3 linked regions of the Homo sapiens genome follow. The protein of the gene in region 3 purifies or fractionates together with the protein of the main gene of each other region. This does not show direct contact. Each region holds a gene or a part of one and is shown on either strand. Other genes may lie near its edges. The genes, in order: KIFBP, CS and MMP13.

Region 1 (3,500 bases), on a different chromosome or scaffold from region 3:
TCTCAAACATTTCCAGATGCTGGTAGACTTGAGCTAGGTAATATAGGTTATGAGTATAAACCTTTTCAAATCTGTAAAGAAAAAATAAACCAATATTTGTGTAATGGTTTACTTGTTTTTTTTTTTTCCTGAGACAGAGTCTCGCTCTGTTGCCCAGGCTGGAGTACAGTGGCACGATCTTGGCTCACTGCCTCCGCCTCCTGGGTTCAAGCAATTCTCCTGCCTCAGCCTCCCGAGTAGCTGGGATTACAGGCGCCTGCCACCATGCCTGGCTAATTTTTGTATTTTTGGTAGAGACGGGGTTTCACCATAATAGTCAGGCCAGTCTTGAACTCCTGACCTTGTGATCCACCCGCCTCAGCCTCCCAAAGTGCTGGGATTACAGGTGTAAGCCACCGTGTCCGGACCATGGTTTACGTTTTATAAGTAAATTTCATATATATTTATTTTGATTATCCCACCAACCCTTTGAGTTGGATTTGTTTATTGTATCTATTTGACAGATAAGGAAACTGAGTCTCAGGTTTGAACAAGGTCAAATAACAAGTAAGTGGTAAATGGAGGTTTTACTCCTGTCAGAATCCACATTCTATAACCTTTATAAGTGACTTTTTGAACAATCACTAATCTATGATATGTGGAAATATTTGCAAGGGCTGATTTCTATACCTACTCACCTTTTTGATCTCTCTTGTTCAGTAAGTTTCTCTTCTTCAGGAAGAAAACGCTCAGTAGGATCAAGAGGAGGACTCCCAACCTACAATTAAGAAAAACAAAAGCTCTTTAAAGTTTTAAACTGTAAACACCAAGTGCCCTCTTCTGGAGGACCTGGAGAAATCAACTTCTACAAGCCAAATACATTTCATTTTTTCCTAGTTCATTTTTATGTTACTCAAGAAGTAATTTTCTGTTTTTTAAATTTTTATTTATTTATTGAGACAGGGTCTCTGTCACCCAGGCTGGAGTGGAGTGGCACAATCTCGGCTTACTGTAACCTCCGTCTCCCGATCCTCCCACCTCAAGCAATCCTCCTACCTCAGCCTCCTGAGTAGCTGGAACCACAGGTGTGCACCACCAGTCCTGGCTAATTTTTATATTTTTTGTAGAGACAGGGTTTCGCTATGTTGCCCAGACTGGTCTTAAAACTCCTGGGCTCAAGCAATCCACCTGCCTTGGCCTCCCAAAGTGCTAGGATTATAGGCGTGAGCCACTGCACCCGCCTCAACAAGTAATTTTCTTAACCATAAAATCTGAGTCAAACAAATAAAAGATACCCTTTTATTTGTTTTAACCAAATGTCAAAAGTTCACATTTGACAAAATTTTACTGTTGTTGCAGTTAAACTGCAAATATGCAAAAAATCCACCAATCTGCTTTTAGACATATATAATTCTTGAAGTATTTTTTCTTTTTTTAATTCTTATTTATTTATTTAGAGATGGGGGTCTTGCTCTGTTGCCCAGGCTGGTCTTGAACTCCTAGCCTCCAGTGATCCTCCTGCCTCAGCCTCCCAAAGTGCTGAAACTACAGGCATGAGCTAAGGTGCCCAGCCTCTTTAAGTTTTTTTTTTTTTTTTTTTTTTTGGAGATGGAGTCTCGCTCTTTTGCCAGGCTGGAGTGCAGTGGTGCGATCTCGGCTCACTGCAACCTCCGCCTCCCGGGTTCAAGCGATTCACCTGCCTTAACCTCCTGGGTAGCTAGGATTACAGACACGTGCCACCACCCCCAGCTAATTTTTGTATTTTTAGTAGAGACGGGGTTTCTCCATGTTGGCCAGGATGGTCTCAATCTCTTGATCTCATGATCCGCCTGCCTCGGCCCCCGCAAAGTGCTGGGATTACAGGTGTAAGCCACCGTGCCCGACCCCTCTTTAAGTATTTCAAATGGCAATTTTGTCTGGTAAAAGGGCTCTTTTAAAAACATGCATAAGCAAAACAAATAGGAAAAATGTATATATTTCTACAGTAGTAGTATTCTAAACTGACCACTAATAAAAATCAAATGAGAGATTTTAATATTTATTCTAATATTTTTTTCTCAAGGAAATAACAAAAGTGTATTACCCCCTTTCAATACAGGGACATTAAAACCAGATTCCATTATTTATTGCCTTGGGCAAGTCACTTGATCTCTTGTGCTTCTGTTTAGTCATCTATAAAATAAGGGTAATAACAGTATCTATCTCATGAGGATTAAGTAATATTTATAAATCACTTACAACCCCCTCTTACGTCTTCCAAAACAGAACTACCTAACCTCTGCCTCATTCTACTTCTATGAGGATAGTCCCATCTAGAAACACACTCTTGCTTTTAACTGAATTCATTAAACTCAAAAAGGAACAACGTCTTTCATAAAAATATGATTTTACATTCTGGATGTAAACACTAAAAGCATCACAACGTGGGCTCCCAGGATTCACATAAAGTAAAAACAACTAAGACAGGAAGCAAGGCCCAAGGCAAACACAATAGATAAGTAATTCTTCAGAGAACTCTTCAACAATTCCGAGGGCTGCTTACCATGCTTACCCCTGTCTAGATGAGGGGAATTAATCAATATATTATTTTATGTACATACTTCACTGTTATGGCTTTCACACATCATACGTAATATTAATACAGTCAAATCAGTCTCTTAACTGAAACAGAGGTACAACTAAACACAAGGAATTTCACTATATGTGTTATGTTTCCATACAAATACTATTTTTAATGAAATACTATTGATGCTTAGTAACTTTTTTTTTTTTTTTTTTTGTAAAGACGGGTTCTTGCTTTGTTGCTCATGTTGGTCTTGAACTCCTGGCATCAAGCAATCTTCCCACCTCGGCCTCCCAAAGTGCTGGGATTATAAGTGTAAGTCACCGTGTTCAGCTTTTACATTTTATTTTACTTATTTTTGAGACAGGGTCTTATTTGGTTACCTAGGCTGGCGTGCAGTGGCAGGATCCTCGCTCACTGCTGCTTTGACCTCCTGGACTGCCCTCCCGGACTCAAGCCATCCTCCCACCTCAGCCCCCGAAGTAGCTGGGACCACAAGCACACGCCACCACACCCAGCTAATTTTTTTTTAGTTTTTGTAGAGACAGCGTATCACTATGTGGCCCAGGCTGATCTTTGAACCTCTAAGTCAGGCAATCCACCCACCTCAGCCTCCCAAAGTGCTGGGATTAAAGGCGTGAGCCACTGTGCCTGGCCTCAGACCTTACATTTTAAATTAACAATTTCACATATAAGACTGTGAGCCTAAAAGCAAGAAAGGGTAGACTAATATCTCTATTTGGTTTTGTGGCACTCTGCTCTTGTTAGTACTTCAGGAAGAAAGTTAAAATGCCAAGGTACGAGGCTGGGCATGGTGGCTTATGCCTGTAATCCCAGCACTTTGGGAGGCTGAGGTGGGCGGATCACTTGAGGTCAGGAGTTTGAGACCAGCCTGGCAACATGGTGAAACCCGGTCTCTATAAAAATACAAAAATTAGCTGGGAATGGTGGCGGGCAC
Region 2 (3,729 bases), on a different chromosome or scaffold from region 3:
TGGAAGGAGTTACCACTATGGAGACAGCAGGAGGTTTAACTGCTTTTTTTCATCCATAGCTTCACTAGCATTCCTTGAAGACAGACTCTTTCCCATCATCTGGGCTCCAGAGCAGGGCGGTTATCAATATTTTTGAGTGACCCCAAGGAAAACAAATGAGGAAACTGAGCAATTACTTAACACTGCTGGTAAGATCTCTCCTGCACCTGGTCTTTCGACAGCACTTCAACCTCTCTAATCTGGGAAAGACCACAGGCAGAGGGCAGCCTTTCATAACGGTACTTCTGACCCTCCTGGAAAAAGCACAAAGATTATCTACAAAGAAGCTGACAGAAGACTACTCATTAGCAGAAATGGAAACTTGCAAAGTTTCTAAGAGTGTCAAAAGAAAATAATTAGTTTGGCTGGGCGCGGTGGCTCATGCCTGTAATCCCAGCACTTTGGGAAGCTGAGGCGGTGGATCACCTGAGGTCAGGAGTTCAAGACCAGCCTGGCCAACATGGTGAAACCCTTCTCTACTAAAAATACAAAAATTAGCCAGGCGTGGTATGGGCAGGCAGCTGTAATCCCAGCTACTCAGGAGACTGAGGTGGGAGAATGGCTTAAACCTTGGAGGCAGAGGTTGCAGTGAGCCAAGATTGTGCCACTGCACTCCAGCCTGGGCAAATGAGCAAGACTCTGTCAAAAAAAAAAAAAAAAAAAAAAAAAAAAAAAGAGAGAGAGAGAAAATAGTTTAGCTAGTTTATGCTTTTCTGTGTGTACAGGTAGTTTCTTTTTTCCTCAAATAAAAAATACATCTGTGAGAAGATTGTTAAGTTGCAATAAAAGTTCCACACCAACTTTGTGAGTTTTCTTTTTCCTTTTCTTTATTTTTTTTGAGACAGTTTCACTCTTGTTGCCCAGACTGGAGTGCAATGGCACAATCTCAGCTCACCGCAACCTCAGCCTTCTGGATTCAAGTGATTCTCCTGCCTTAGCCTCCTGAGTAGCTGGGATTACAGGCATGCACCACCATGCTTGGCTAATTTTTTTTGTATTTTTAGTAGAGACGGGGTTTCACCATGTTGGCCACGCTGGTCTCAAACTCCTGACCTCAGGTGATCTGCCTGCCTCGGCCTCTCAAAGCACTGGGATTACAGGCGTAAGCCACCATGCCAGGCCATACACCAACTTTGAAATAAGATGACCAATCAGGTTACTAACTAGGAATACGGCCTGAGGCAAGGAAATTAATTTTTCTGTACTAGATTTTGAAAACAAATTGAGATAATCAAATTAAGCCTAAGTTTCCTGCTCTATAAAATGGCTCTAATACTCACCACACACCTCACAGAATAGTCCCATGATAACTAAATTACAGTGGATATAAAAGTGCTTTGCAGACTTAGAAGATTACACACAGAAATAAACTAATCCTGGAGCAAGGCTGCACCTGTCCTTTTGTCAAAAGACCAGAGGCACCTTTTCTAGTAACTACTGCACTGCTCTCTGTGCAAAAAATTGCTACCTGCCTGGGGTGAGAGTTCTATAGGGCTGAAGGCTTTTTAGAATTTTTTTTTTTTTTTTTTTTTTTGAGATGGAGTCTCATTCTGTCGCCCAGGCTGAAGTGCAGTGGCGTGATCTCTGGCTCCCGTGTTCAAGTGATTCTCATGCCTCAGCCTCCTGAGTAGCTGGGATTATAGGCACACGCCACCATGCTTGGCTAATTTTTGTATTTTCAGTAGAGACAGAGTTTCATCATGTTGTCCAGGCTGGTCTCAAACTCCTGACATCTGGTGATACGCCTACCTCGGCCTCCCAGATTTTTAGAATTTTTAAAATTTAGTTCCCCTATTTCTGTTGGGACGGAGAGGAGGAATGAAAAGAGGCCCTTCAGAAAGGTCACTCTTTCCCCCAGGCTGGAGTATAGTGGCATGTTAATAGCTCACTGTAGCCTTCAATTCCTGGGCTCAAGTGATACTTCCACCTCAGCCTCCTGAGTAGCCAGGATTACAGGCGCACATCACCAAGCCCAGCTAATTAAAAAAAAAAAAATTTTTTTTTGTAGAGATGGGGTCTTGCTCTGTTGCCCAGGCTGGCCTCGAGTGATCCTGGGCTCAAGTGATCCTCCATTTTCAGCCTCCCAAAGTGCTGGGATTACAGGTATGCACCACTGCACCCAGACAGAAAAGATTACTTTTAAAAGAATCAATCCAAAGGTAAATTCAGAGAGCATAGACCAAGCCAGTATGTTCCTAAAGCAAACGAGGAACACCTCAACTTGTTACCAGGGCTGTCCTTAACTCCTTTTCTTAACTTCCTCAAGAGTCTCCTCTATCTTACTGAGGATCACTTGAGCAAGAAAATAGGCAGCACAAACAGCCCTTCATAGCCCTTGCACCCTACATGGGCAAACAGGAAGCTGAACCCAGCACTGAAGATGTAACTTTGCCCTTTCTTTCACAAAAAAAGTGGGCAAAGAAAACATGTTAATAAGTTCAAACTATTGTTCTACAGAGTTAACCTTGTTCAAGCTATTCCATGGTTTAGAGTCCCACAGATTCCCTACTAGAGAGGCCCCATGTCCCAGAGACTACATCAGCCCAGCAGGAGACCTTTTAATTGAGGGTGGTTGTTTGCTGTGGTGATTTTTTTTTAAATTTAATTTAATTAATTTTTTTTTTTGAGACGGAGTCCCGCTATGTTACCCAGGCCGGAGTGCAGTGGTGCGATCTCAGCTCACTGCAAGCTCCACCTCCAAGGTTCAACACCATTCTCCTGCCTCAGGCTCCCAAGTAGCTGGGACTACAGGCACCCGCCACCACGCCTGGCTAATTTTTTGTATTTTAGTAGAGACAGGGTTTCACTGTGTTAGCCAGGATGGTCTCGATCTCCTGACCTCGTGATCTGCCCGCCTCGGCCTCCCAAAGTGCTGGGATTACAGGCGTGAGCCACCGCGCCCGGCCAGCTAATTTTATCTTTTAAACTTTTCTTATAGAGACGGGGGTCTTGCTATGTTGCCCCGGCTGGCTTTGAACTCCTGGGCTCAAGCGATCTTCCTACCTCAGTCTCCCACAGTGCTGAGATTACCGGCATGAGCCACTGCAACCAGCTGACTTTCTGTTTTGTTTTGTTTTGAGACCGAGTCTTGCTCTGTTGCCCAGGCTGAGTGCAGTGGCTTGATCTTGGCTCACTGCAACCTCCGCCTCCCAGGTTCAAGCGATTCTCCTGCCTCAGCCTCGCGAGTAGCCAGGACTACACGCACCCGCCACCATGCCCAGCTAATTTTTGTAGTTTTTTAGTAGAGACAGGGTTTCACCACGTTGGCCAGGCTGGTCTCAAACTCCTGACCTCAAATGATCCACTTGCCTCAGCCTCCCAAAGTGCTGGGATTACAGGTATGAGCCACAGTGCCCGGAAGATTTTATGTTTTTTTGTTTGTTTGTTTGTTTTTGAGAAGGAGTCTCACACTGTCACCCAGGCTGGAGTGCAATGGCACAATCTTAGCTCATTGCAACCTCCCTCTCCCAGGTTCACACTATTCTCCTGCCTCAGCCTCCTGAGTAGCTAAGATTACAGGTGCACACCAACACACCCGGCTAATTTTTTGTATTTTTAGTAGAGATGGGGTTTCACTATGTTGGCCAGACTGGTCTCGAACTTCTGACCTCGTGATCCACCACCTCGGCCTCCCAAAGTGCTGGGATTACAGGCGTGAGCCACCGCGCTCAGCCTGATAGCCACTTTCTA
Region 3 (3,829 bases):
AATAAAACTCAGCTGTCTATGAAGACAACATCTACTTGTCATAACTAAGTCCTAGTTAGAACAATCTATGGCTTTTCTTCCTAAGTTAACATTCCCAATTATTTTGAGACTTGAAGATTTAACTACTAACTGATCTCATTCAACATTCAGTTTCATTTTGCTCTTGTAAATACAACCATCATCTTGTCTGTTTCATGCTGTTTGGAGTAAGAGTCTGTCTAGGTTTTTAAGAATAGTGTTTACAATATATAGACAAGACTGAATCAAGCAACTCATATAATGGGAAACAGAAATTTGATTGAACATATTTCTACCAAGCAAAAAACTATTTCAATTCACATCTAATTCATGTATGACCCATAGATCCAGCCCTGGTAGTTTTTAGTTAGATATTTCTAATAAACTGTACTTCCTCAACATGCCAAAAGGTAATTTGCAGTAATAACATGTTGGCTGACAGACATAAACATTTTGGTCCTACTTCAAAGTTCATTAGTATCCCTCAAGCCACAGTGACAGATTAAGTAGATTTTGTTCATTTTTTAATGTTGATATCAATTTGTAGAAATGTCACTTGTAGAGACACTAATACATCTAAGATAAACTTTATTTAAGAAAATATAGTCAAATACCAAATATATTTAACTTTTATGTGTTTTAACTTCATACTAGTGTGTTCACTGTCTAATCTAATAACACATAAATGATATCTTTATAAGAAACATTACCTTTGGAACTACTTGTCCAGGTTTCATCATCATCAAAATGGGCATCTCCTCCATAATTTGGCCCAGGAGGAAAAGCATGAGCCAGCAGGCCAGAGGGCCCATCAAATGGGTAGAAGTCGCCATGCTCTACACACAAAAGCAAGGGTTAGGAGTCTTATCACATCCAGGAGTACTTAGCACAGGTGTTTGGTAAATTAGTGTTGAATTCTTTAAAAAGTAATGAATGACTGAAATAAATAATTTTAAAATGGAACCAAGAATTAGAATATAAAAATGTTTGTAAAATAAATGTGCATCATTACCCTTAATTCCAAAAGAGATCATGATGTCAGCAATGCCATCGTGAAGTCTGGTAAAATTCAGAGGAGTTACATCGGACCAAACTTTGAAGGCTTTTTTGAATGCCTTTTCGACTTCAGAATGAGTCATATCAGGGGTGTAATTCACAATTCTATTTAACAGAGAAAGTTTCAATGAACTTTTTGGAAAGTGACAGCTATTTTAGAATACATTTTCTTGGTATATTGCTTTTCAATTCAAAATGCAATAATTTCTTTGAAAGTTCTACTAGAGGTTTATTGTTTCAAATAATGTATTAATTATGATGCCATACAAGAATAAAAAGTCAAAAATTCAGCCACATTTGAGTATCTCCAAATATCTGACCATGTGGCATCTTAAATTTAAAATATTCCAATGTTTAATATAATTTATTTTGCATGCTAAAAGTTTAGATTACATTGATAAAGCTCAAATAAATGAAATAGCTCTGTAAAGTTTCTAGAAAGAGTGGAACTCTTCATCTTGAGCACTGTTGTAATAAATACACCTAATGTACTATGTTTGCAAATTTTCTTTAACCTACTTTTATTTCTCTTTTGATTTCATCTCTAAAAGAAATACTTTGAGATGCCCACTAAAAAATAATGCTGAGTTAATGTAACAATAATAGATGTTATGAGGTATTCTCGGCAACCATATTAAAGCTATTCTGGAATTTAACTGCCAATTAAATAATAAGGCCTACTTAATATTAGACATTTAATACTACAAGAAAAGGCTAACAAATATGAAAGAAAGATAGCCTATGATTTACCTGTAGGTTAAATTCATTTTGGACCATTTAAGAGTTCGAGGGAAAACATTGTATTCACCCACATCAGGAACCCCGCATCTTGGCTTTTTCATGACATCTAAGGTGTTATCGTCAAGTTTGCCAGTCACCTCTAAGCCGAAGAAAGACTGCATTTCTCGGAGCCTCTCAGTCATGGAGCTTGCTGCATTCTCCTTCAGGATTCCCGCGAGATTTGTAGGATGGTAGTATGATCTCAGGTAGCGCTAGAAAAGACACCAAAATGAACTGCGTTTAAAAGAGAAGGACATTTCTGAGATGTACCAACCGCATCATCAGGATTGGCAAGATACTCTACCTCTGCAAACTGGAGGTCTTCCTCAGACAAATCATCTTCATCACCACCACTGGGAAGGGGCAGGGCCCGACAATGAGTCCAGCTCAAGAAGAGGAAGGCAGCCAGGACCCCTGGATGCATCTTGAATGGTGATGCCTGGGGACTGTTGTCTTTCCGCAGAGATTACCTTTACTTTTATAGGCCTGCAATGGTGAGTCATCACTTATGGATAGGTTTCCACTTCCCAGTCACTTGAAGGTAAACATGCTTACGTGGCGACTTTTTCTTTTCCCTCCCGAGTGTGGTTTGTGGTAGAATTTGAGGGAAATATAAATGAGAGCATCTCTTGTTTCAGCAGGGTCTCAAAACCCATCTGGCAAAATAAACGGCCTCAGCATATTTATGGATACTGTGGGAAGAAGCAGAGAGTAGTACATTTTTTACTTCACTTAGCAAAATTTTTTTTTTTTTGCCTTCTGTAAGAACGTATCTACTTTTGCTTCTTCGAATAATAAGTGTATCAAGATGGCATGTTTACTTCCATAAAGAGAAACTTAGTACTGATTCTAGAATGTTTACTACTGCCTGGTAAATTATAAACTGCATTTTCTCTAGAATAACTACAGAGAGATGTCTTGTGTCTACCTGAAGTTCACGATATTGGACCAAAACCAAGCTTGATGACTTGGAGGTGCTACGGCACAACCGCAGGATTGAGCCCCATGGTTGGAATTTAAACACACTGGCATGACCTCTCGACAAATATGGAGTCCTGCATAAATTCCCTACAGATTCAGACAGAGGTAGAAGAATTACATTGGAACGGAACAACTGTAATGGCTAGCACAAACAGGGATTACTGCATTCTAGGTTTAAAAGGCATTATCTCATTTAATCCTTACAACAGCCACATAGGTGCTGTCAGAAAGCTTGTTTTCCATTTTACATATGAATAATCTGATACACTGAGAAGTTAAATACTTGTATACGGTCATATAGTTTATAAATGATACCAGGATTTGAACCTAGGCCAATAACTCAAAACTCAATGTTCTTGACCACCGTCCCTGTCTAATTATGACCTCCACCCTTTCCATTCTCAGATATTTTCTTAAAAGCTGAGCTGTTTGGTTCCTACACCTCAGGGAGTGCCCAAGAAAACTAGGGCTGCAGTAGGCCAATTTCAAGTTTCTCAATTTTTAAGTTTGAATAATAGAAGTAATCTTGGTCCAACCATCAGGAAAATAGTCCTAGGGGCCTCTACCCTATTATTCCTTTCAGAACATCACACATTCAGTACCGTGAAATCAAAGTGCCATCTTTGGTCCCCTGCAGAAGTAAATGGGTAGAGCAATATAGGCCATGATCTTTGGATTTATTGGACTTCTTTAAATAAATGATTGGAAATGCAGGTTAATTTGAGTGACTAAGAGTCAGAAAGAAAATGCTGCTCAGGTCAGGAACATAGTAAGACAAAGAGAAGGAGCATGAATACAGCTTTAGGGTGAGTACGAAATGGGTATCCTAACATATGAGTAAAATCCTATAATCTAGAGTAGCCAGTGCCTTAGAGAAAAATCAGAAAAGCCTACAACATGTATGTGATCATTTGAGGGAAATTTACTATATGCCTTTATCCAAACAAAATACAGCCAAATATACCCTTTCAAATAGATTGTTTCCAGTGAGTTC

What was found.
Region 1: the proteins of MMP13 (region 3) and KIFBP purify together in Homo sapiens (affinity purification with mass spectrometry; one large-scale study listed by BioGRID and IntAct). This does not show direct contact.
Region 2: the proteins of MMP13 (region 3) and CS purify together in Homo sapiens (affinity purification with mass spectrometry; one large-scale study listed by BioGRID and IntAct). This does not show direct contact.

Annotation. Positions count from the first base shown.
Region 1 is NC_000010.11:69,002,303-69,005,802, reverse strand, and holds part of KIFBP (KIF-binding protein), read right to left. Parts: intron 758-3,500; coding exon 678-757; intron 72-677; coding exon 1-71. UniProt on the Homo sapiens protein: Activator of KIF1B plus-end-directed microtubule motor activity. Required for organization of axonal microtubules, and axonal outgrowth and maintenance during peripheral and central nervous system development.
Region 2 is NC_000012.12:56,286,797-56,290,525, forward strand, and holds part of CS (citrate synthase, mitochondrial precursor), read right to left. Parts: intron 1-3,729. UniProt on the Homo sapiens protein: Key enzyme of the Krebs tricarboxylic acid cycle which catalyzes the synthesis of citrate from acetyl coenzyme A and oxaloacetate.
Region 3 is NC_000011.10:102,953,428-102,957,256, forward strand, and holds the start of MMP13 (collagenase 3 preproprotein), read right to left. Parts: upstream 2,306-3,829; 5' UTR 2,279-2,305; coding exon 2,159-2,278; intron 2,067-2,158; coding exon 1,825-2,066; intron 1,180-1,824; coding exon 1,031-1,179; intron 855-1,030; coding exon 729-854; intron 1-728. UniProt on the Homo sapiens protein: Plays a role in the degradation of extracellular matrix proteins including fibrillar collagen, fibronectin, TNC and ACAN.